7 linked regions of the Homo sapiens genome follow. The protein of the gene in region 1 purifies or fractionates together with the protein of each later gene. This does not show direct contact. Each region holds a gene or a part of one and is shown on either strand. Other genes may lie near its edges. The genes, in order: MYH6, TTC4, BRD1, NSF, USP24, BDP1 and DCAF1.

What was found.
Region 2: the proteins of MYH6 (region 1) and TTC4 purify together in Homo sapiens (co-immunoprecipitation; one large-scale study listed by IntAct). This does not show direct contact.
Region 3: the proteins of MYH6 (region 1) and BRD1 purify together in Homo sapiens (affinity purification with mass spectrometry; one large-scale study listed by BioGRID and IntAct). This does not show direct contact.
Region 4: the proteins of MYH6 (region 1) and NSF purify together in Homo sapiens (affinity purification with mass spectrometry, with the first as the bait; one large-scale study listed by BioGRID). This does not show direct contact.
Region 5: the proteins of MYH6 (region 1) and USP24 purify together in Homo sapiens (affinity purification with mass spectrometry; one large-scale study listed by BioGRID and IntAct). This does not show direct contact.
Region 6: the proteins of MYH6 (region 1) and BDP1 purify together in Homo sapiens (affinity purification with mass spectrometry; one large-scale study listed by BioGRID and IntAct). This does not show direct contact.
Region 7: the proteins of MYH6 (region 1) and DCAF1 purify together in Homo sapiens (affinity purification with mass spectrometry; one large-scale study listed by BioGRID and IntAct). This does not show direct contact.

What each region holds. Positions count from the first base shown.
Region 1 is NC_000014.9:23,387,774-23,391,273, forward strand, and holds part of MYH6 (myosin-6), read right to left. Parts: intron 2,674-3,500; coding exon 2,284-2,673; intron 1,947-2,283; coding exon 1,820-1,946; intron 1,739-1,819; coding exon 1,620-1,738; intron 1,283-1,619; coding exon 1,086-1,282; intron 894-1,085; exon of another isoform or gene 823-893; intron 566-822; coding exon 382-565; intron 151-381; coding exon 1-150. UniProt on the Homo sapiens protein: Muscle contraction.
Region 2 is NC_000001.11:54,732,861-54,736,360, forward strand, and holds part of TTC4 (tetratricopeptide repeat protein 4), read left to right. Parts: intron 1-768; coding exon 769-850; intron 851-3,500.
Region 3 is NC_000022.11:49,796,874-49,800,373, forward strand, and holds part of BRD1 (bromodomain-containing protein 1), read right to left. Parts: intron 2,247-3,500; coding exon 2,115-2,246; intron 1,814-2,114; coding exon 1,685-1,813; intron 1,245-1,684; coding exon 932-1,244; intron 1-931. UniProt on the Homo sapiens protein: Scaffold subunit of various histone acetyltransferase (HAT) complexes, such as the MOZ/MORF and HBO1 complexes, that acts as a regulator of hematopoiesis.
Region 4 is NC_000017.11:46,691,669-46,695,168, forward strand, and holds part of NSF (vesicle-fusing ATPase), read left to right. Parts: intron 1-1,234; coding exon 1,235-1,400; intron 1,401-2,178; coding exon 2,179-2,253; intron 2,254-2,806; coding exon 2,807-2,994; intron 2,995-3,500.
Region 5 is NC_000001.11:55,093,365-55,096,864, reverse strand, and holds part of USP24 (ubiquitin carboxyl-terminal hydrolase 24), read left to right. Parts: intron 1-242; coding exon 243-367; intron 368-1,468; coding exon 1,469-1,610; intron 1,611-2,777; coding exon 2,778-2,928; intron 2,929-3,500. UniProt on the Homo sapiens protein: Ubiquitin-specific protease that regulates cell survival in various contexts through modulating the protein stability of some of its substrates including DDB2, MCL1 or TP53.
Region 6 is NC_000005.10:71,458,651-71,462,150, forward strand, and holds part of BDP1 (transcription factor TFIIIB component B'' homolog), read left to right. Parts: coding exon 1-205; intron 206-3,166; coding exon 3,167-3,276; intron 3,277-3,500. UniProt on the Homo sapiens protein: General activator of RNA polymerase III transcription. Requires for transcription from all three types of polymerase III promoters. Requires for transcription of genes with internal promoter elements and with promoter elements upstream of the initiation site.
Region 7 is NC_000003.12:51,416,516-51,420,015, reverse strand, and holds part of DCAF1 (DDB1- and CUL4-associated factor 1), read left to right. Parts: coding exon 1-282; intron 283-1,139; coding exon 1,140-1,338; intron 1,339-1,817; coding exon 1,818-1,900; intron 1,901-3,144; coding exon 3,145-3,229; intron 3,230-3,500. UniProt on the Homo sapiens protein: Acts both as a substrate recognition component of E3 ubiquitin-protein ligase complexes and as an atypical serine/threonine-protein kinase, playing key roles in various processes such as cell cycle, telomerase regulation and histone modification.

The sequences.
Region 1 (3,500 bases):
CTCCCGCTTGAAGGTCTCTAGGTGCTCCAGGGACTCCTCGTAGGCGTTCTTGAGCTTGAAGAGCTCTGTGCTGAGGGAGCGAGCCTCCTTCTGTGAGGACTCCAGCTCAGACTGCGACTCCTCATACTTCTGCTTCCACTCGGCCAGGATCTGCCCGGGGACAAGGCTCACTCTTCAGCCCCCCAGCCTTAGCTCCCCAGCCCTCCTGCTTCCCAGTGCCCCAGCCCCCAGCCTCAGCCGCATGTCCAAGATCTGTCCCTGGTCCCGAGCCTGGGCTTAGCCCTCCTCCTCCACCTCCAAGGAGGTTGCCTTTGGCCTCTCACTGAACCCCTCATGCCCCCTTGCCCTGCATGCTGGCTGCGGCCCCCGCCCATGGTCCACCTTGTCAAAGTTTCTCTGCTTCTTGTCCAGGGCTGCAGCAGCAGCATTGGAGCGCTCTACGTCCACCATCAAGTCCTCTATCTCATTCTGTAGCCGGTGCTTGGTCTTCTCCAGTGAGGAGCACTTGGCATTAACAGCCTCCACGGCCTCCTCGGCATCCTGCAGCCGCTGGGCCAGCTTCTTTCTGCCCAGGTGAGGGTGGAGGGTGTGTGTGTGACTCTACTGGGCAACACTGGAGCCTTGGGTGGACCTCCTTCCACCCCCTCCCTATATCTCCTTGAGACACCGTAAGTCCAGCCTAGCAGGAGCTGAGCCTGCTCATGCCTGGAACAGAGTCCGCCAGCACGGGCTGCCCAGGCGTCCTCCCTACCTGCAGTGGCATCTGGGTGTCAGTGCCCCCTGCCCTCACCCCCCACACAGGCTGATCGACGGTAGCTCCTCTGACCAACAAGCTTTTTGCTCGTCTTATACGTGAGCATCAGGTATAACCCGGGCCAAAAGCTCGCCCGTCACAGGAAGTGGGTCAGGGCCAGCCAGAGTTCACAGAGCAAAGAGTTCAGGCTTTCTTCCAAGCACTTCTGTTGCCCTCCGAGTTCCTCCTGTCTCTTCCACTTCCGTCTCATGACCACTTTGCCTGTCCCCACCCCAGGTCCTCTCGCCCCTTCCTCTCTGAGAGTCAGGTTAAGGGGGTATCTGGAGCTCACTTGGCCTCTTCGAGCTCCTCAGTCCGCTGAATGGCGTCCGTCTCATACTTGGTCCTCCACTGGGCCACCTCCGAGTTGGCCTTGGACAGGACGCGCTGCAGCTCGGCCTTGGCCTCTGTCTCCTCCTCGTACTGCTCCCGCAGCAGGTCGCAGTCATGCCGGGCCGACTGCAGTGCATGGGCCAGGGCGTTCTTCGCCTGGGGAGGGGGGGGGGCACCAGGAGGTGGGAGGGACTCCCTGTGCCCCATTCTCTAGATTCTCTTCTTATGTAGTACTTCAACCAAGCCCAGCCTTATTCACCATGTGGGCTGATGTGGCACCTCACTGTTTGAGGAGTTTCCCAGTCTGCTCACCCCATCCCCTTACGAATAAGAAAAGAGGCATTAAATGACGCTTAGCTGCAGGGCAGAACCTAGACTGGAGGGTCTTTCCCTTGCAGAGGACTCTTTCCAGCTCCAGGCTCCATTTCTGGCACTGAGATGAATTGCCCCAGGGCTGCCATCAAGCCTGCCCACCCTCCCCACTGGGCCTCACCTTGCCCTCCTCCTCCAGCTGCCTTTTGAGGTCCTCCATTTGCTGGGTATAAGAGAGCTTCCCCCGGGTCAGCTGCGAGATTAGCGCCTCCTTTTCCTCTAGCTGCCGGGCCAACTCTCCTGGAGGTGAAATGAGGGGCTTGTGGGCCATTTCACAAGTCATGTCCTGCCCTAGGCAGGGGGTTGGTTAGGGGCACCCACCATTCTCGGTCTGCAGCTTGGCTCGCTGGGTGGTGAAATCATTGAGGGAGCGTTGGGCCTCTTCTAGCTTCACGCGGTACTCATTGGCCTGGTCCTCCAGCGTCCGAGACACTTTCTCCAGGTTTGCCTTCAGGAAGCAAGACAGGAAGGGTGAGTGTGGGAGGGGCTGAGTCGACCAGAGGAAGGAAGAGAGGGTCAGAGATGGGGAATGCCAGAGGGCAGGAGGGGGACACAGAAGGTGTGGGAGGGCGCAGTCTGAAGAGAGACTTGAATTAAAGAAAGGAGGAACATGAAGAGATAGAGAGGGTGAGGAGAGCCAGAGAGGGGCAGGGGAGACAGGAAGAGAGACCAAAGGGTGATGAAGAGAATGAGAATGACAAGGGAGATGGCAGACAGAGAGAGAAGGCATGGGGGAGGCTCCGCTGTGCAGGGGAGAGGGCGAGGGGAGGCCGAGCAGAGCCTGCCTTGGCCTTGATGATCTGCTCCATGTTGGAGGTGACGTCATCCAGCTCCAGCTTGAACTCGCTCTTCTCCTTCTCCAGCTTCTGCTTCACCCGCTGCAGGTTGTCGATCTGCTCGCCCAGCTCGGCCACGCTGTCGGCGTGCTTCTTGCGCAGGGCCGCGGCAGTGGCCTCGTGCTGCAGCGTGGCCTCCTCCAGGTCCCGCCGCATCTTCTGGAACTCGGCCTCGCGCTTCTTGTTCATCTCGATCTGCACGGACGTGGCCCCGCCGGCCTCTTCCAGCCGCTCGCTGATCTCCTCCAGCTCCCGAGACAGGTCTGAGCGCAGCTTCTCCACCTTAGCCCTGGCGGTGCGCTCGGCCTCCAGCTCCTCCTCCAGCTCCTCGATGCGTGCCTGGGTCAGACACAAAGGGCTCAGACCCACCGCCTGGACCCCTCCACTGGAATCCCCCCGGCTCTGAAAAGCTACCAGGAACTTAGGTTCCTCTCAAGCAGTGGTTCTCAACTAGGGGCAATTTTGTGCCCCAGGGAACAGTTGGCAATGTCTGATTGTCATGTCTTGGTGGGGCTTGCTACTGGCATCTAGAGGGTAGGGGCCAGGGATGCTACTAAACATCCTATAATGCATAGGCCATCAATAGGAATTTGGCTGAAGCTCCCAAGGGCATCTCAGACCCAGTGTGAGCATCTGCAGCCCCAAATCCTGAGAACCTGTGGTTGAAGGGGGATCCTGGTATCCTGTGAGATCAAGAAGTTCAGAGTCCCCAGATTCACTAGGCTCTGTTGCGCTATTCATAAGACGGGAAAATGAGTGCTTGTATTTTACAAATATTTGTGACAACATGCCTCGAAACAATCAGATACCTTTGCAATTCTCCAAGTTAACCACAAAGTCCAATCAACCATATTCCTTGCTCTCCCAGGCTTGCTGTGTTTATGCCCAGGGCTGGGTTTCAACATGATTGCTCCCTTCCAGGCCAGGAAAGTGCTAGCAGGCTACTCTCCTCTTCACCTCATCTCCTTATCCTCTTTAAGTGCCCTTACCTCATTTTTTGGGCCTTAGCCTTGGTCTTGACTAAATTGGGAGAATATCGTATCTACCATTTTGATCTGTTGTCTGGCTAGCCAGGAGCAAAACGGGGGTTCAGTGGAAATCCCTTCACCTCGGGTTATGGACAGCTTTAATGGACTGTTCATGGATGGGTCCTACAAGCAGCAGAG
Region 2 (3,500 bases), on another chromosome or scaffold:
GGATCACTAGAGGCCAGGAGTTCAAGACCAGCCTGGCAAACATGGCAAAATCCCGTGCCTAATAAAAATATAAAAAATTAGCCGGGCATGGTGGTGCATGCCTGTAGTCCCAGCTGTCTGGGAGCCTGGGGCACGAGAATCACTTGAACCCAGAAGGTGAAGGTTGCAGTGAGCAGAGATTGTTCCACTGTACTCCACACTCCAGCCTTGGTGACAGAGCAAGACTTTGTCTCAAAAAAAAAAAGAAAAGAAAAGAAAAAAAGAAAATCCTGTCAGTCAGGTGCAGGGCTCACACCTGTAATCCCAATAACTTTGGGAGGCTGAGGCAGGAGGATAATTTGAGCCCAGGAGTTTGAGACCAGCCTGGGCAATATAGGGAGACCCCCATCTCTACAAAAAAAAGAAAAAAATTAGCCAGGCATGGTGGCATGTGCCTGTAGTCTCAGCTATGCAGGAGGCTAAGGTAGAGGAATTGCTTAAGCCCGGAAGTCGAGGCTACAGTGAGCTGTTATCATGCCACTGTACTCTAGCCAGGGTGACAGAGCGAGACCCTGTCTCAAAAAAAAAAAATAAAATAAAATAAAATAAAATTATGTCATAATAGGACAAGTGATACATATACACATTTGGGGTACTGCTGTCAAATGGGTTAAGCCTGCATTTCATGTTTTATACATTCTAGATAACTTTGAATTAGTGTCTGGGGACCGATGTGGGAAAATAGATCATGAGTTATTGATACCCAGAAAGTACATGTTTTATCCTTAGGTTTATTGATCATCTAATGGTGATGTTTGGTGAAACACCCTCTTGGGACCTAGAGCAAAAATATTGCCCTGATAATTTGGAGGTAAGAGAAGTTTTATTTCGTTCCTCTATGGAATTAATTTTTTTTTTTTTTTTTTTTTTTTTTGCGGCGGGGGAAGCAGTCTGCTTTATTTTTTTGAAAATTATAGTAAAATATACATGACATAATATTTACCATTTTAACCATTTTTAGGTATATAGGTCAGTGGCATTAAGTACATTCACATTGTTGTGCAACTATCACCACCAGCCATCTCCAAAACTTTTTCATCTTCCCAAATTGAAACTCTAAGTACTTCATATAAGTGGAATCATACAGTATTTGTCCTTTTATGTCTGGCTTATTTCACTTAGCATAATGTCTTCAAGGTTCATTACATATTGTATCATGTGTCAGAATTTCCTTTTTTTTTTAAATTTTTGAGACGGAGTCTCGCTGTTTCACCCAGGCTGGAGTGCAGTGGTGCGATCTTGGCTCACTGCAACCTCTGCCTCCCAGGTTCAAGCGATTCTCCTGCCTCAGCCTCCTGAGTAGCTGGGATTATAGACGCGTGCCACCACACCCAGCTAAGTTTTGTATTTTTAGTAGAGATGGGGTTTCACCATGTTGGCCAGGCTGGTCTCGAACTCCTGACCTCAAGTGATCCACTCACCTCCGCCTTTCAAAGTGCTGGGATTATAGGTGTGAGCCACCATGCCCAACCAGAATTGTTTTCCTTTTTATTTATTTTTATTTTTTGAGACAGAATCTCGCTCTGTCACCTAGGCTGGAGTGCTGTGGTGCAATCTCAGATCGTTGCAACCTTGCCTCTTGGTTCAAGTGATTTTCATGCCTCCGGTTCCCAGGTAGCTGGGATTACAGGCATGTGCCACCAAGCCTGGCTAATTTTGTTTGTATTTTTAGTAGAGATGGGGTTTTGCTATGTTGGCCAGGCTGGTCTTGAACTCCTGGCCTCAAGTGATCCGCCCTCCTTGGCCTCCAGAAGTGCTGGGATTACAGGTGTGAGCTACCGTGCCCAGCCAGAATTTCTTTCCTTTTTAAGGCTGAATAACATTCCATTGTTGGGATTTTTTAAATAAAAAATCACAATATCCAGTATAAAGAATTACCTTTTTCTAACATTTGAGAGTAGGATGCCAGCTGATGTCCCATTACCCCTGAATACTTTACTGTGTATTTCCTACACAAAAGGACATTTTTCTTTATAATACCCATATAGCTATCAAAGCAGGAAATTTACATTAATTCACTGTTACCATCTAACCCTCAGACTCCATTCAGGTTTCACAAATTCTTTATAGCAAAAGGGTTTTGTTCAGAATCACATACTGTATTTAGTGATCATGTCCCCTTAGTCTCCTTCAGTATGGAAGAGCTCCTCAGTCTTTCCTCCACTTTTTTTTTTTACTTAAAAAATTTTTATTCATATTTTTGTGATCCTGTGACTCAACTGCAGGACACTTTGAAGATTACAGACCACTTATTTTGTAGAATGTCTGTCAGTATGGGTTTGTCTCATGTTTCCTTCTGACTAGATTTGGATTATACATACTTGTTTGTTTGTTTTGAGATGGAGTTTTGCTCTTGTTGCCCAGGCTGAAGTGCAATGGTGTGATCTCGGCTCACTGCAGCCTCTGCCTCCAAGGTCCAAGCGATTCTCCTGCCTCAGCCTCCTGAGTAGCTGGGATTACAGCTACTCAGATACCACGCCCAGCTAATTTTTTGTATTTTTAATAGAGATGGGGTTTTGCCGTGTTGGCCAGGCTGGTCTCAAACTCCTGACCTCAAATGATCTGCCCGATTTGGCCTCCCAGAGTGCTAGGATTACAGGTGTGAGCCACCATGCCCGGCCTGGATTATGCATATTTGGCTGGAATATTACAGAAGTGATGCTGTATTCTCATTGCACCTATCAGATGGTACATAATCTCCATTTGTCCCATTACTCATGATGTTCACTCTGATCACCTGATTGAGGTGGGGTCTGCCAGCCTTCTCCACTGTACAGTTACTTTTTCTTTATGATTAATAAGTGTTTTATAGGGAGATGCTTTGAAATGGTGTAAATATCCCATTGCTCGTCAGATATTCAACATATTTATTTATATTGGTGGATTTATAGTTTCCTGTTTCATTTAATGAGTTTTAATCTGTTACTATGATTGTTTCTTTTATGCTCAGAATATCCCAGATTTGGCCAGTGGGAATCTCTTCAAATTTGTTTCTGTGTCCTTTTGACTTGTGTCTATTTTTTAAGTGGTTGCTTTCTTACATAGGATGTTCTAGGTTCAGATTGCGCTTTCCTTGCCCCAGCTCTGGAATTAGCTATTTTTTCCCAAGAAGCCCTGGTTCTTTCTAGTGAAGAATGGTATTTAGAAGCCGAGATCTCTGTGCAATAAGTGTATAAGTGTATCGATTAATACAATGGGGGTAGAGAGGCAAGCTTACTGCCTCAATGCCTTCTCAGTGCCACAGCTTGGGGGAGAAAGAGAGAGAAAGAAAGAAAGGAGAGAGAGAGAGAGAGAGAGAGAGAGAGAGAGAGAGAGAGAGAGAGAAGAGGAGAGGAGAGAGAAGAGAGGAGAGAGGAGAGAGAGAGAGAGAGACCATGAAGTCTCATTGGTATCTCCAACTCTTAATTCAACATCCACAGGATTTTTTCTCCCTTTCTATATTTGTAACAATGACTTTCTTC
Region 3 (3,500 bases), on another chromosome or scaffold:
AGAGGAAGAGGGCCAGGCCTCATCCCAGAAGAAGCGACCTAGCACGGGTCAGTGATTCATCAAGAGAAAGGGTAGGCCAAGAAATCAGGGATATGGGACCTTTAGACAAATAAGCCAAACACACCGTGATTTCTGCTCAGTTTGTGGCTCAGAGCTGGAGCTGAGGTGCTGGAGCTCTATGTGCTTTGACAACCCATGTGGGCAGGACACACCCTTCGACAGACAATCCCAGAGGTGCGACTAACAAGCAGGGTGCAGGGGACAGCCCCGGTTTCCGAGGACCAGTCTAGAGAAGGGTGCAGGTGACTACACATGGCTGCAACACGTGCCTGGGCAACCAAGAAGCACAAGCCCAGGCTGGAGTCCAGGTGGGCCGTGGACACACTCCCAGAGCCCTTTCTACAACATGCGCAAACCACGAAGTTAAAGGGCTGGAGGCAAAGCCAGAGATCCTCCGGCTTCACGCCACCCTCAGAAGTTAGCCGAGGCCCACTCTGGATGAAAACCCCCAACTAAGCTGCTTTCTGGGTCTGCATCGTCGAGACCGGCCACCCCATAGGGAGCCACAGCCACACAGTCCTCTTGGTGGGCACCCAAAACGCAGCCAGTCTGAAGTGACAGGTGCTGAGCGTAAAATACACATCAGATGGCAAAGAAGGTGAAAAGCTTATATATCCTCAGTAACGTTTACCGATCCCATGTTGAAATCAACTCTTCCATACACTGAGTAAAATAAGACATATTATTAAAGTAAATTCCACCTGCTTCTTTTCCATTTTTCAGTGAGGCTACTAGAAAATGTAAATGATGTATGCGGTTGCATGCTAGTGGCTCCCGGACCATGCTGATAGGGAGCTGGCAACACAGAGCAGGACAGAGTCTGCTAGAAAGAGCGTCTTCCACCTCCTCCGGACACGGCGCCAGTTCTTACCGTCTTCCCAGGAGAAAGGCCGCCGCGGTGCCGCAGCAGGCCGCTCAGGCAGGTGCATCCCCGAGGCCTCTTCCAAGCCGATGCTGTCCACCTCGCGCCGGGCCTGCCTCAGAACAACACCTCCCTGATCGCGCAGCCTCACCGCGGCTCTATAGAACACGGTGTCCCTGGCATTGTACTTCATGCAGTTATCTATAATGAGATCAAAATCCTCCTCAAACTCATGGAGGTTTTTATACCCTTGAGCTTCTAACCGTTTCCTCATTGTGGCAAAGTCCATGGGATGTTTAATGTGATCCAAATAATCTGGTACCTAATTTTAGGGAGGAAAAAGAATCATTTACAAACTAAAACAGGATATTAGTTGACTCTATATTTATTATTCCATATAACCCACAAGCCCATCCTATCTGAGAGCCACACACAGACACGCAGACGGTACAGACATAAGACCCAAGTACTGCAGGGACCTTCCCGACCCCAGCTCCTTCAGCTAAAGCACGCTGGAGGGTGCCGGGCGGATGCTGCCACAGCCCAGGGTACTGTCTGCACAGGGCCTCTTGCCCACTGCACTTTCAGTATTTTACAATGAAATGTATCACTTTTATAATTTAAAAACAAATACGTTAAATAAAAACGAGAATTAAGAACACAAGGGATGTACTCTAGCCAATCACACGTTTCCCGGTCAAACGGCAGCACAAATCCACAGTCACACATGCGGCAGGACAGACGAGCGCCGCAAACACCCACCTCCTTCAGACTCACGGGCTGCGCAAATATCCTGGCGGGGTCCTTGTCTTGCAGCTGGTCCAGCACTGAGCGCAGCAGCACCGTCAGCGGGGTCAGCCGCAGCTCCATGGCGACCTGCTCCACCTTCACCTGGGGGGGCCCAGCAGAGCCTCAGCTTTAGGGAGCCGCACATGCGTCTCAGCCCCACCACGCGCCCCACAGCCACAAGCAGCCCCCACAGGCTCCTGTGCTTCCGTCCAGGCATAGGACAACGCAGCCTCCACTTAGGGCTCTGCAACCCATGGCAGCCAGGCACCCAGCCTGGGCTGAGCAAGGCACTGCTGTGGGCCAGGACCCACCGGGTGCAGCCCACCCTCTGCAGGAGCTGCCAGCGTCCCACCCACGCCCCGTGGCCAGTGGTGCACTCCACGCGGGACAGGCCCAGCCCCACCTGCTCACGCTTGAGCTTCTCCCGCTTGCGCAGCAGCTCGATCAGCAGGCGAGCGCGCTCCAGGTCGTGCCGCAGCCGCTGCCAGTACTTCAGCTTCTCTTTGGCAGCCTTCATCTCCTCATCATTTTCTCTCTGAGAACAGTGAACACTTCCGTCAGTCAAACCCAGAGGCTCCTTCTGCAAAAGGCCTCAGATACCATGCAGGTGAGACCCCAAGAGGCATCCACGTCAGGGGTCCTGCAGGCCCATCCTGGGGAGGACAACAGACCACCCTCACTAGAGAGCCCCAGGACAGCACCGGGACAGAGGGGACAGAGGAGACAGAGGGGATGGAGGGGACAGAGGGGACCGCCAGGCCAAGGTGAGCAGGGGGCTGGCCCCGGTGCACAGGTTCCACCCTCCAGAGAGGACAGAGGCCTCCGCAAGCTGGCGGCGGGGGGGGCCTTCACAGAACCAGAAAGGCCCACAAAGGCGGGGCCAGGACAGAATGGGGGACCCTTGAGGACCCACCTCCAGGACAGCTGGGAATGGAGGGAGCGGCTGGAAAGAAACCAGGTGCACAGAAAACCACATGCTGGGCCCATCCTGGCTTGGACAGAGCATGACGGGGGCCTGGCACACAGCCGACCTGCTGCCCTGCCCTGCACAGCGCCTCCATCCCGACACACGTTTCCCCACAGCCAGGGTCCCATTTCCATTGATAGCACCTGCTCCCTTCTCAGTGGACAGAAGAGTGCGCCAGACAGCACAGGCCGCCAGCCTCAACCCAGCCAACATCCACACCAGGGTGATCAGAAGAAAATCAGAGCCCTGCAAAGGCCATGACACAGATGGTCGCAGGAGAGTAGGCCACCTGGGTCTGCCCTCAGCCCTGTCCTCACCATGTCCCCCAGGCCTGGCCGCATGAGGCCTGCTCGTCACAGTGCCGGGGCACCCTGACCCTACCTCAAAGGGGAGAGGAAGTCAACGAGGGAGTTGGCCTGAGTGGGCCCCCAACACCTGTCATCCTCCACAGCTGCAGGACACGCGCGCCCTGCCAGCCTCAGGACAGCCGTGGCCATCAGTTTCTGGCACATGCTTCACAGCCCTGAGACCCTCCTCTCCCCCAACGCCTCTGTCCCCGGGTTCCCACCTGCCCACCTCAGGGTACTGTCATAGCTTTTCAAAGGACCGAGGGTGTGAAGGCAAAGACTGCTGGACTACAAGATGCAAGGACCCCGGACTCCAAACTGCTCAGAAAAGGAGGCTCAAGGAGGGAGGCCGAGCCCCGCACCCCCACCCCCAAGGCCAGGCCTCTCCATGGCGAGGCAGAGCGTTGCTGCGCTGATGTCCCCTGAAGTGAGGATCTCTGGGTTTTCCTCAATGCTGCTGAACACCCTCAGGCAG
Region 4 (3,500 bases), on another chromosome or scaffold:
AGTCTCATTATGCTCATTTAATTTTTATTATCCGTATGTTGTCATATTTAGGTTATGTTCATTTTTTACCAGTTTTGTTAATCCCTAGTATTTTTTGTTTTTGAGACGGAGTCTCACTCTGTCGCCCAGGCTGGAGTGCAGTGGTGCAGTCTCGGCTCACTGCAACCTCTGCCTCCTGGGTTCAGGTGATTTTCCTGCCTCAGCCTCCAGAGTAGCTGGGATTACAGGCACCTGCCACCACACCCAGCTAATTTTTGTATTTTTAGTAGAGATAGGGTTTCACCATGTTGGCCAGGCTGGTCTCGAACTCCTGACCTAAGTTGATCCATCCTCCTCTGCCTCCCAAAGTGCTGGGATTACAGGCAGGAGCCACCGCACCCGGCCGTGTTTTTTGTTTATAAAAGAAAAAATTTCCAGAGTGCACTTTACTCCCTGATAGGAGACTAAATTACTTAAATATAAATTTTAGAAGGTACGTGTTAAATTAACCTAATGAATTAGTAGCATTCAGAAGTGTTTGTATCTGTTAAAGATTCAAAATATACAAACTAATTTCTTTTAATGGTGATTCTATTTCTAGTAAACTAAGGCAGAAATCATTATGCAGAAGAAACAGCACCCTGTTAACCATGTTCTTTTTATAAACCGTCTCTGTTCTCACTTTATTGTTAGGAAGGCGTAATCTGTTTTCATGTAATATAAGTACATGTGAGTCATGTTGAGTTTCTTCACTCATTTGTCCAATTCCCAGTCAACCTGTAGGTGGAGTTAACCTTTAGTTACATAATATAACGAAACAAACATTAAACCTACTGCTTCTGGGACAGTCTTCTCACCAAAACTCAGGGAAAATGGGAGGGTGTTGCCACTGACTGACTTAATGAAAGTATCTGACAAATGTAAGGTCTTTCAAATAGTGAGATAAGAAATGTATATAAATTATTTGATCGACTACTTACTTTCTATCTATACACACACACTATCAGTATATAATGTGTATTTTCATTTTATAGCTATTAAATATGAGGTTCTAGAATGAGTTTTCAGTTTGCAGAATTCTGAGAATCTAGTTCCAACACCTTTGAGAGGACAACAACCACAATTGCACTTGCCATATTTATTAGTCAAAATGAAGTGAAGTCAATCTGTTGAAAGCTTTGTTTTGTTTTTCTGATTAGTTTGTTTAATAAGACATTCAAATTATGATCTTTAATATAATTTCTTCCCCTAATAGCTTGGTGCTAACAGTGGTTTGCACATCATCATCTTTGATGAAATTGATGCCATCTGCAAGCAGAGAGGGAGCATGGCTGGTAGCACGGGAGTTCATGACACTGTTGTCAACCAGTTGCTGTCCAAAATTGATGGCGTGGAGCAGCTAAACAACATCCTAGTCATTGGTATGTTTACTTTTTAAAAAAGTACTATTCATTCAAAAACGTTAGCCATAAGTTCTGAATTAAGATGTGTGTAGGTTGTGATTAAACTGTTTTGCCAGTGTTTCCAAATTAGAATCCAGTGATATTGAAGAATCTATTGTAATGCCTAGGCTTAATAGGAAAAATAAAAGATGGATTTCAGTCACTTGTAGGTTTAAGCTTATAGCTCACCCACAGGTGAAAAAGATGTAGGTTGAAGCTTATAGCTCACCCAAAAATGAAAAATACACATGAAACAATGGAATGCAGTGGTTTTCAAACTGGGTCTTGCAGGCCTTCGGGGGTCCTCAGAGGTGCTTTCAGGGTCAGTGAGGGCCAGGGAGTGCGTTTCAGATCCTACATCACTATTATAACTTCCTCTTTTAGCTGTTTTATGTACTGAGGTGCTTCTGAAGATGACTTCTGGGGGAAAAAAAAAAAAAACACCCTGCTGTTTTATGAAGTCTGAAAACCACTGGCCTGTAAAAAAGAGAAGGAACTTTGGAGTCAGAGAGATCGTGTCACATTGCCCCTCTGTCACTTTGACAGATTATTTACCCTTTGAATCTTAAATTTTCTTTTTAAATACTGGAAGTTTTCATAACATTTATATTCCATTGGCTTATACAGTAGTGAAATAGTAAAGCAAAGTCTCCTTAGCTTGTTAGGGAAATTACTATTCTTACATATACTAAAAGGACATTTGATTTTATTTTTGAACTCTGATCATTTGTTGTTTTGTTTTAACATCTGTGTTCAGGAATGACCAATAGACCAGATCTGATAGATGAGGCTCTTCTTAGACCTGGAAGACTGGAAGTTAAAATGGAGATAGGTAAGGAGATCTGTCACTGATTGGGTGTGTGGTGGGGGGAGTGGAGGCATTTAGAGTTCATTAACAGGAACAATGTCATATGGTGTAGTATTTTTTAGAAAAGGTTTATATCATGAGAAGTAGATGTTTACATGCTTGAGTACCTATAAGGAAAACATTAGGATCATAATAATCTCCTCTAGGCTGGGCGCAGTGGCTCACACCTGTAATCCCAGCACTTTGGGAGGCTGAGGCAGGTGGATCACTTGAGGCCAGTTGTTCGAGACCAGCCTGGCCAAGATGGTGAAACCCCTTCTCTACTAAAAATACAAAAAACTTAGCCGAGTGTGGTGGTGTGCACCTGTAATTCCAGCTACTCGGAAGGCTGAGATAGGAGAATCGCCTGAATCCAGGAGGCAGAGGTTGCAGTGAGCTGAGATCGTACCACTGCACTCCAGCCTGGGAAACAGAGCGAGACTCTGTCTCAAAATAATAGTAATAATAATAATGATAATCTCCTCTGATGGTGCTTTCGAGACTAGGAAAATGCCTATTTTATTTTTAATTTCATCAGGCTTGCCAGATGAGAAAGGCCGACTACAGATTCTTCACATCCACACAGCAAGAATGAGAGGGCATCAGTTACTCTCTGCTGATGTAGACATTAAAGAACTGGCCGTGGAGACCAAGAATTTCAGTGGTGCTGAATTGGAGGGTCTGGTGCGAGCAGCCCAGTCCACTGCTATGAATAGACACATAAAGGTCAGGAAAATCAGCTAAACAGATTATAAACATTATGCCAGTATTCTTTCTCTTTCCTTTCAAGCATATCAAGGGGTAGGGAAATGCTGACTTTTGGTGGAGAAGAGATGGTAAAAGGAATAAGAATTAATTGTCAACTGCTAAATCTTCAGAGTAGCAGGAAGGAAGATAATGTTTGCATCTGCCCTGTAGTAACCACTGACTCATCTACCTTAGGTCATCACCATCTGACACAGACACGTAAAGTGAAAATTTTGAAGAAGTGTTTTTAAATCTTTGTATTGTATTAAAAGTTGTAATATGGCCAGGCATGGTGGCTCATGCCTGTAATCCCAGCACTTTGGGAGGCTGAGGCGGGCGGATCACAAGGTCAGGAGATCGAGACCATCCTGGCTAACACGGTGAAACCCCGTCTCCACTAAAAATACAAAAAATTAGCCGGGCATGGTGGCGGGCACCTGTAGTCCCGGCTACTCGGGAGGCTGAGGCAAGAGAATGGTGTGAAC
Region 5 (3,500 bases), on another chromosome or scaffold:
CACTTTGGCATTGTTCTTGACTGTGTTTCATTTTGAAGTTTTAAAGCTTCGTGCAACTGGTTTTACCCCTTCAATTTGAAAAGTTGTTTTAGAAATTGAAATAATTGTTGCTACATATTTCTTAGATATTTTCAAATGGTAAACACCTGCTTTATTTGTAGACAATACATTGAGATCAATGCTAAGGATGAGGAGGTTGATTTTTTTAACCTTATAATGTTTGTCTGATCTCTGGGTTCTAGAGGGTGTGGAAAAGGAAAGTGGTATAAATTTAATGACACAGTTATAGAAGAATTTGACCTAAATGACGAGACCCTGGAGTATGAATGCTTTGGAGGAGAATATAGACCAAAAGTTTATGATCAAAGTAAGTATTTACAAATGGATATTTTCCATTAGTTTTTTTATTTATCGTTTTCTATAAAAATTAATAGTATTCTTTATATAAAAACACAACAGATTTTGTTATTTTTATTGTACTACTGTTCTAGCAATAGAACCATGAGCAAGCTCTTTAATAACCAAAGTGAAAATGTTCAAGCTGTTTATAAAAATTTTTTTAAATAATTTCTTACAACAACCTTGAGGGATAGGTAGGGGAGCTGGGAGTAAGTTAAAAGGATGAAATGAGCATCAGAGAGAAAGTAATGAATACTGAAATTGAACCTTAAAAATAGTTTTGGAAGTAGTTATCCATTAAAATTTTCAGATTTCCTTTTCACTTATGTAGAGGTGTGACTAATTAGAGAAGACATTTCTAGCACCTGTGTTTTTAAAACCATATTTATTATGCAGTGTGGCAAAGCAGTCTTTCCCTCTACAATCCCCACTCCCAGGAAAAAAGAGTATGAGGAGAAGTACAGCCCAATCAGAACTTGCTATTTGATAAAAAGCTATTTGGTGGAGACCTTAGCATTTCAGAAACCTGATTTTGAAATCTTCTAGTGGTATTTCTAAATTTTTAGCTGTATTGGATTCACTGTATTAGATTTTGATACCATGCCATTATAGTTAAGCATCTTATGGTGGTAACCTTTAAGAGTTGGATATAGTATTGTCAGAATTTGCCTGGATTTGGCCGATCTTGGCAGAAATGGTTAAGTGAGGCCAGTTATCCCATCTTGTGCCACAGAACATATTTTTAAATGTCACTTGCTATTTGCTTACATTTAGACCTCCCTAGGATACTTACCTTCTTTCTCTTACTCCATTACCATACTGCTCCCTTATTCCTTGTCCCCACCTATATCACTTCCAAGTGAGAGATCCAGCTAGGCCCACAACTGAAGTATCCTGACTTCCATGCTAAGCAGTACTCTAAAGACACTCACATTTTACTTATACTTTGCATTTTACAAACTTAGGGAGTAGTTAACTACTTGCTGGAATAATGGGCCCTTTGTTTTAGATTGTCAAGACAAGAAAAACTTTTATTTACAGATGTGTTTCTTAATGTCTTGTTATAAAGCAAACCCATACACTGATGTGCGCCGAAGATACTGGAATGCCTATATGCTTTTCTACCAAAGGGTGTCTGATCAGAACTCCCCAGTATTACCAAAGAAAAGTCGAGTCAGCGTTGTACGGCAGGAAGCTGAGGATCTCTCTCTGTAAGTGTCTCTTCCATGTAATTTGCTGTGTGATTTCTATGGTGATGATGTGGTCTGTGACAATATACTATTTGAGATTTTAAAGATAATTAGCTAAGCTGGAGAGAAATTCTAAAAAGAATTCCAAAAAGAAAATAAATCCCTTATTGCTTCATGGTTATTTTCTTGGCAAGAAGTTGTTACATATTTAGAAACATGCACGTAAGTTATTTCATTCTAGAATTGAAGTGTTTTGTTTTTTGTTTTTTTGAGACAGTGTGGTCTCACTCTGTCACCCAGGCTGGAGTGCAGTGGCATGATCATAGCTCACTGCAGCCTCGACCTCCCAGGCTGAAGCGATCCTTCCACCTCAGCCTCTTGAATAGCTGGGACCACAGGCGAGGGGCACCAGGCCCAGATATTTGGTTTGTCTGTTTTTTGTAAAGATAAGGTCTCCCAATGTTGCCCAGGCTGGTCTGGAACTCCTGGGCTCAAGCAATACTCCCATCTAGGCCTCCCAAAGTGCTGGGATTATAGGCATAAGTCACCATACCTGGACTTTTTTTTTTTTTTTTTTTTAATGTTAGCAGCATTTGTTGAATACACTTTTTGTCCAAAGCATAATGCTATGCCAACACTGTCAGAATGTTGTTGTTTTTTAAAGGTCCTATTGTCAGTGAATTTGCCTTTTAATATATTGGGTCAGGAAAGTGTTTACTTTTTCATGTGAGAAATATGACTATATGTGTTTTATTAAATTTGAAAACTTGGTTCAATACTTTGTTCTTACACGACTTTGAGTGTGTGGCTCTAAGATAAGTTTATTTCACTGCTTTTTTAATGGCTGGGAAAGATATCTCACAATAATATGAAGGAAGAATTCATTTTGTGCTTAAATGTTAAATCTCATATGCCACTTAAGTAAAAATTTGTGTTAAATTTGCCCTGCACTATTTTATCTTCTATAATGTCAATCAGTTCTCCCAACTAATTAGAAAGTATTGCATTTTTAATTTCTTAATTGTTACATTATGATTGTATATATTTATGTGGTACAGTTTTATGTTTCGATACATGTATAATAATCAAATAGTCTAATACCCGTTTATGTGAATTTGGCAAGTCTTAGTAACTACTGAAAAAATAGCCACTTTATACTAGACAGAGTTTTCTGATTCTATCTCTTAGGTCAGCTCCATCTTCACCAGAAATTTCACCTCAGTCATCCCCTCGGCCCCATAGGCCGAACAATGACCGGCTGTCTATTCTTACCAAGCTGGTTAAAAAAGGCGAGAAGAAAGGACTGTTTGTGGAGAAAATGCCTGCTCGAATATACCAGGTAAGAACCATATAAAAAATTCTAAGGGGGAATATCCACGTGGACATCAAAATGTATCTAGTAGGTCCAGAAGTACTTCTGCTGGATTAGTTGTACCACTGGGGCTACATCGTCTTACACACTTGTCTCATGAACCTTTTATGCCACGACACAGAGGGGGCCATAGAGCTAGAGCCATGGAGTGCTAAGAACACAAGTATGAATACACACTCATGATTGGCAGGCACAATCACTGACCTGCTCTGTGAGTGTGAAATGTCACAAATAAACAGAGTTGTGGGGAGTGGGCAGTAAAGAAATCGTGTTGCTGAAATAAACTTATTTTGTCTGGAGAGAAAAACAAGTTAAGGTTCATAACCTTTGAGTGGGACTAATAAAACAATCATTGGCCATTATTTATTGAACACCTACTGTGTGCTACGTGCTTTAAGCACATCTTTAATTTGTAAAAGATTATTATGCAGTATCAGGTTTTATTCTCATTTTTTGGATGGAAAAACAGGTTCAGAAAAGAAGAAGTATGTGCCAGTGTCACAGGACAAGGATCTAAATTCAGAACTGTCTACTCAGTC
Region 6 (3,500 bases), on another chromosome or scaffold:
AAAGCGAATATCAAGTACTTCTAGCCTGGTTAAGTCTAGTGTCAGTGTTCCTTCAGAATCTCATCCCTTATCTACAATTAATCAAGAGGCTCCACAGCCAACTGCCACTTCAACAAAAGAGAAACAGCCATGCTCAGACAGATACCGAATATACAAAGCCCAGAAACTGAGGGAAATGTTAAAAGAAGAATTGAGAAAAGAGAAGGTAAGGGAGGAGAATCAGGATTTTGATGTTGCCTTCTATTTATGTTAGTAAGGAATCATTGGGAAGAAAAGCATTTGTAGCATTTTGATGGGGGAACAAAACCACATAACATCCCTTAGTCAATAGAACATCCCTTCTTGTTAATGGATTGATTGATACACCGTGGACTTAAATTACATTTTTCACTGATAGTAATTTTTACATTATTTATTTATGTTTTCACTGTTTTTGGTGAAGACCACAAATAAGTTTCATACGCATACACATAGATGCACATACACAAACATATTTATAAAATAAACCTTCAGTCTGATTTTTCACATAAAGATGTCCAAGTGATAAGTGATATATTTATTTGAATTAAGACAAGTATAGGCCGGGCGTGGTGGCTCATGCCTGTAATCCCAGCACTTTGGGAGGACTAGGGGGGCAGATCACTTGAGGTCAGGAGTTCAAGACCAGCCTGGCCAACATGGCAAAACCCTGTCTCTACTAAAAATACAAAAATTAGCTGGGCCTGGTGACGTGCATCTGTAATCCCAACTACTGGGGAGGCTGAGGCATGAGAATTGCTTGAACCTGGGAGGTGGAAGTTGCAGTGAGCCGAGATTGTGCCTCTGCATTCCAGCCTGGGTGATAGAGTGAAACTGTCTCCAAAAAAAAGACGAATATAGTTGAGCAGAATGAATTGGTAATGTTTTCTAAATTGACTATGGAAAATTACAAGTGGGAAAAATTTGTGTTATGCATATATTAGAGTCCATGTTCTTTTTAATCTTGAGGATTGATTTCTTTTCTAGAAGGGCAGGTAACAGCAGTAGAGCATGCTGGCCCTGGAGTTAAATACTTAGGGATTGAATCTCAGCTTCATTTCTTTACTAGCTTTGTGACCTTGGGTAATTTAATTAATCTATTTCCTCATCTGTAAAATAGACCAATAATAGTTCAGGTTGAGCATCCCTGAAATTGAAAATGCTCCAAAGTCTAAAATGTTTTGAGTGCCAAAGTGATGCTCCAGGGAAATGCTCATTGGAGCATATTGGATTTCAAATTTTCAGGTTAGAGATGCTCAGCCAGCATGTATTCTGCAAGTATTCAAAAATGTGAAAAAATCCAAAATGTGAATCATTTCTGGTCTCAAGTATTTCAGATAAGAGATGCTCAACCTCTATCTAGCTCATTAGAGGGTTGTGAAGATTAAATGAGTCAATACATGTAAAACACACTTAAACTGGTGTCTTGGGCCTTGTGCAGTGGCTCACGCCTGTAATCCCAGCACTTTGGGAGGCCGAGGTGGGCGGATCACCTGAGGTCAGGAGTTCGAGACCAGCCTGGCCAACATGGTGAAACCCCGTCTCTACTAAAAATACAAACATTATCTGGTTGTGGTGGTGCACGCCTGTAATCCCAGCTACTCAGGAGGCTGAGACAGGAGAATCGCTTGAACCTGGGAGGCAGAGGTTGCGGTGAGCCAAAATCGTGCCATTGCACTCCAGCATGAGTGACAGAGCGAGACTCCGTCTCAAAAAAAACCAACCAAACAAAAAAACTAGTGTCATGAAAATAGTAAGTGTCCAACCAGTGTCAGCTTCTGTTATGAATTATAAAATGCCTCTTAGTTTTTTTTAAATTAAGGGAAGGCATTTTGCTTGGTGCTTTATATCTGTTATCTTATGTAATTATATCAACTATGTGAAGTAGATATCACTGTTTCACACAGGAGAAAACAAGCTTTCAATTTATGTCTTCTAAAATGTAAGCCTCACAACAATTGCTTGAACCTGGAAGGCGGAGGTTGCAGTGAGCTGAAATTGTGCTACTGCATTCCAGCCTGGGCGACAGATCAAAGCCTCTAAAAATGTTTTATGGGTTGGGAATTGGGGGTGGGGGGATTAAAAAAAAGTTCTGTATTTTACAGAAACTGCTTATTTGCTTATTTAATTTATTTTGGGGAATTAAAGATTAAACATTTGCTTCAAGAATTTTACAAAATACACAGAATTTCAAGTCACTACAGGGTAAAAAAAAAGCTGTGTAAGCATAAATTCTCAGTGAGCTATTAAGATGTTTAGTTAGAAGGCATCAGTAAGCATTTTATACATTGAGCTTTATTAGTTTTATTCTTTGGTTATTTATTTAGTTTTGAGACAAGGTCTCACTGTCACCCAGGATGGAGTGCGCTAGTATAATTGCAGTTCACTGCAGCCTCAACCTCCCAGGCTCAAGTGATCCTCCCACCTCAGCCTCCCAAGTAGCTGTGGCTATAGGCATATGCCACCACATCCAGCTAATTTTTTTGTATTTTTTTGTAGAGATAGGGTCTCATTTATGTTGCCCAGGCTGGTAACTCCTGAGCTCAAGCGATCCTCCTGCCTCAGCCTCCCAAAGTGCTGGGATTAGAGAAATAAGCCACTGTGCCTGGCCACATTGAGCTTTTATCTAGTCCTAGTCACTTTAATTGTTAAAATCTAAATACTGCCTGGGTGTGTGGTTCACTCCAGTGCTTTAGGAGTGTGAGGCAGGAGGATCACTTGAGCCCAGGAATTTGAGAGCAGCCTTGGCAACGTAGGGAGACTCCATCTCTACCAAAAAAAAAAAAACCCCACAAAATTAGCCAGGTGTTAGGCAAGCATCTGTAGTCCCAGCTACTTGGGAGGCTGAGGTGGGAGGACTGCTTGAGCTCAGGAGTTCAAGGCTGCAGTGAGCTATGATTGCGCCACTGCACTTTAGCCTGGATGACAGAGCAAAACCCCATCTCAAAAGTAGATAAATAAAAACTAAAAGCTATTGAGGGTAATGTGCTACAACTTTTTAATATTCCATCTACAAAATTACATAATTGGGGTGAGAATAATATTAAAGCACTTACAGTGAACGCAACAGTGGACTGTATATTTGCATATAGTACATCTGAAATTCTTTAATATTTATAAAAGTGGATCTGTGTGTTTATGTATACAGAAACAATGGAAAAACAAATATGCTATAAATGAAAGTCAGAGGCCACCAGATCGTTCAAAAATGACTATGAGAGACTTCATATATTATCTACCAGATAATAATCCAATGACGTAAGTAAAATTTATTTCTGCTTTACTATCTCTTTTTTTTTTTTTTTTTTTTTGGAGGTGGAGTCTCGCTCTGTCACCCGGGCTGGAGTGCAGTGGTGCAATCTTGGCTCACTGCAACCTCTGCCTCCCAGGTTCAAGCGATTCTCCTGCCTCAGATTCGCGGGTAGCTGGGATTACAGATGCTCGCCACCACACCCGGCTAATTTTTGTATTTTTAGTAGAGA
Region 7 (3,500 bases), on another chromosome or scaffold:
CCAAAGCCCAGCCATAAAAAAACAGCTGGACAGACATCTTCCTTCCCCACCTACGCTGGACAGTATAATCACAGAGTATCTTAGAGAACAACATGCTCGCTGCAAGAATCCAGTTGCCACCTGCCCACCTTTCTCCCTCTTTACTCCTCACCAATGTCCTGAGCCAAAACAGAGGCGGCAAGCGCCAATAAACTTTACGTCAAGGCTAAACCGCAGGGCATCATTTCCAAAGTATGGAGGGGTGGATGGCGGATGCTTTGATAGGCACCTTATCTTTAGCAGGTAAGAAGAGGCCCCTTCTTACTCCCTGGGAATTGGAATGATTCTTTTATTTAAATCAAACTGGGCAGTATCAGCATAGTTGTCCTGAAATACCACTGATTGTTACTTTGTGTAATACTTGAACAATGTAATTGTACCACCTTTTGTCAACCATGGGTTCCTTGTGTGATTGTTGGCAGTATATTGATATAATCGTTTGTGTTCTCATCTCAACTAGTATGTTTTCTAGAACCCACACCCCCTCATTACTACTGTCCATAAGGAGGCTCCCAAACTTGTGCTGGTGCAAGTTGCTTCCTGTTCTGATTCTTGACAAATCTTACATAAAGGTTACGGGATCACAGGTTTTAAACATGGGAATTTTTTTTTTTTTTGGAGACGGAGTCTCTCTATCGCCCAGGCTGGAGTACAGTGGTGCTATCTTGGCTCACTGCAACCTCTGCCTCCTAGGTTCGAGTGATTCTCCTGCCTCAGCCTCCTGAGTAGCTGGGATTACAGGCAGGCACCACCATATCTAGCTAATTTTTGCATTTTTAGTAGAGATGGGGTTTTACCATGTTGGCCAGGCTGGTCTTGAATTCCTGACCTCAATTGATACCCCCCCTTCGGCCTCCCAAAGTGCTAGGATTATAGGCATGAGCCACTGTGTCTGGCCTAAACATGGGAATTTTTGTTATTTAAATTTGTAAGTGGAAATCTTTTTCTTATTTAAAATAAAAAGCACTGAAGGTCACTGTGATTTTGGAAGAAGCCATTTGAAACATTAATGTTCTGTGCTTTTTCTTCTATCCTAGCAGTTTGCTTTTTCTGAGTCCCTGCACATTCTTTGCCTGTGATTCTCTCTTTTTTTTGCTTAGATTCCGTCCTATTTCAGTGTTCCGGGAAGCCAATGAAGATGAGAGTGGCTTCACCTGCTGTGCATTCTCAGCACGGGAGCGGTTCCTGATGCTTGGCACCTGCACAGGGCAGCTGAAGCTCTATAATGTGTTTAGTGGACAGGAGGAGGCCAGCTATAACTGTCACAACTCAGCCATCACACATCTTGAACCTTCCAGGGTAAGGGTTCCTTCCTAGGATGCTCTCAGTCATTCTTCCAAGATGAATTGGTGAACTAGAGTAAAGGAGGCTTACCCTTTATTGAGCTCTCTCTTTTAAATGAGTCCTCAACTGGAAAGTCTAGTTGAGGTTAATTCATATTTCAGATGGAGACTGAGGAATATGGCAAAGTTAGTAGGAAGAAAGGAACCATCTTTGACATCTTCTCATTTTCCCCCCTCCCTTTTATCTATTCTATTTTTGTGGCTAGTTCAGTAGGATTTAATATTCTCTTAAGTTTGGTTATTTTATAGGACACTATAGGTGTATGTATTCAAATCCTAGTGGCTTCTGACCATTTCTTGGTTTCTGGGGATTATAAAATTGTCTCTTTAATTCAACAACATTTTTATGCAAATCTTTAAAAATGCTAATGGCAGGTAGTGACATCTGCATGTATGTAAATACGTGGTTACCCACCTTGCGCCTTTTTCTTTTAGGATGGGTCCTTGCTGCTGACATCTGCTACTTGGAGCCAGCCTTTGTCTGCACTTTGGGGAATGAAGTCAGTATTTGATATGAAGTATGTATCTGCTTTTGGAACCTAGTCTGTGCTTTATTTACCTAGTTTATACCCCCCTTCATTTGGTTCTTAGACTGGAAGCCTTTTGGGGAAAGAGGATGCTGTCGGTTATTGTTAACTTCTCTCTTCCTCATCTAAGACTCATGTTTAATAAGACTTTATCTTTCTTAATTCCTAGATACTTTTATGAGGTATATACATTCTCATTATGCAGCAGACCCCGACCCAGAATCTATGTATTTTCCCATGTTCACATAGGACATTGCAGTCTTTGCTGTGTCTCCTCTCCTCTCCTCTCCCCTCCCCTCCCCCCTCACCTCCCCTCCTTTTCTCTCTCCTCTCTTCTCCTCTCCTTTCCTTTCCTTTCCTTTTTTTTTTCTTTTTTTTATTTTTTGTGAGACAGAGTCTCGTTCTGTCGCCCAGGCTGGAGTGCAGTGGCGCGATCTCAGCCTACTGCAAGCTCCGCCTCCCGGGTTCACACCGTTCTCCTGCCTTAGCCTCCCGAGCAGCTGGGACTAGAGGCGCCCGCCACCACACCTGGCTAATATTTTATATTTTTAGTAGAGACAGCGTTTCACTGTGTTAGCCAGGATGGTGTTGATCTCCTGACCTTGTGATCCGCTGGCCTTGGCCTCCCAAAGTGCTGGGATTACAGGCCTGAGCCACCGCACCTGGCCTTTTCTTTTCTTTCCTTCTTTAGACGGGGTCTCATTCTGTCACTTAGGTTGGAGTGCGGTGGCACAAACATGACCTACTGCAACCTCCACCTCCCAGGCTCAAGTGATCCTCTCATCTCAGCCTGCTGAGTAGCTGGGACCACAGGCATATGCCACCACGCCTGGCTAATTTTTTGCATTTTTGATAGAGATAGGGTTTCGACATGTTGCCCAGGGTGGTCTCGAACTCCTGAGCTTAGACAATCCACCTGCCTCAGCCTCTCAAAGTGCTGGGATTGTAGGAGTGAGCTACCATGCCTGGCCCCTTTGCTGCGTGTTTCAAAGGCACATGTGCCCTGTTTGTCATTTCTCTAAGGAATTCCCATTCATTATTTTGTATCTGCTTGGTTAAGGTGATAGAAGGAATTTTCTTTGTAATCTAAGTGTATGATTGTTTCCTCTTTGGGAGTCCAGGATCTTTAGGTGAGTGTGATTGTGCAAGAGGCTGGGGGTCACCTGTGTTTCAGTTGGTTGCAGGAATATGTCCTGAAGATCTGTCACTTCAGTGCTCCTGTTGTTTGTCCATAGGCATTCCTTCACAGAAGATCACTATGTTGAGTTCAGTAAGCACTCCCAGGATCGGGTCATCGGCACAAAAGGAGACATTGCCCACGTAAGTACTTAAGAACCACTGTTTTCAAGCTGATCATACCCATTTGTTCATACTGAAATCTTCTTGATAGAATGTGAGGACCTAAGTCCTTTGGGCAACTAGAAATCAGTGATATTCCTTCTAGTTAGAATCTAAAAGTATGATAATATAGTTCTGAGCTGTATGGGAAAAATGTATAAGGGCTAAATGTGACATTGAGAAAGATGTCATTAGCACCACAGATATTTTTGAATTCTTAGTAAGTTTTAGATTAGAAATGAAACCCCTGCCT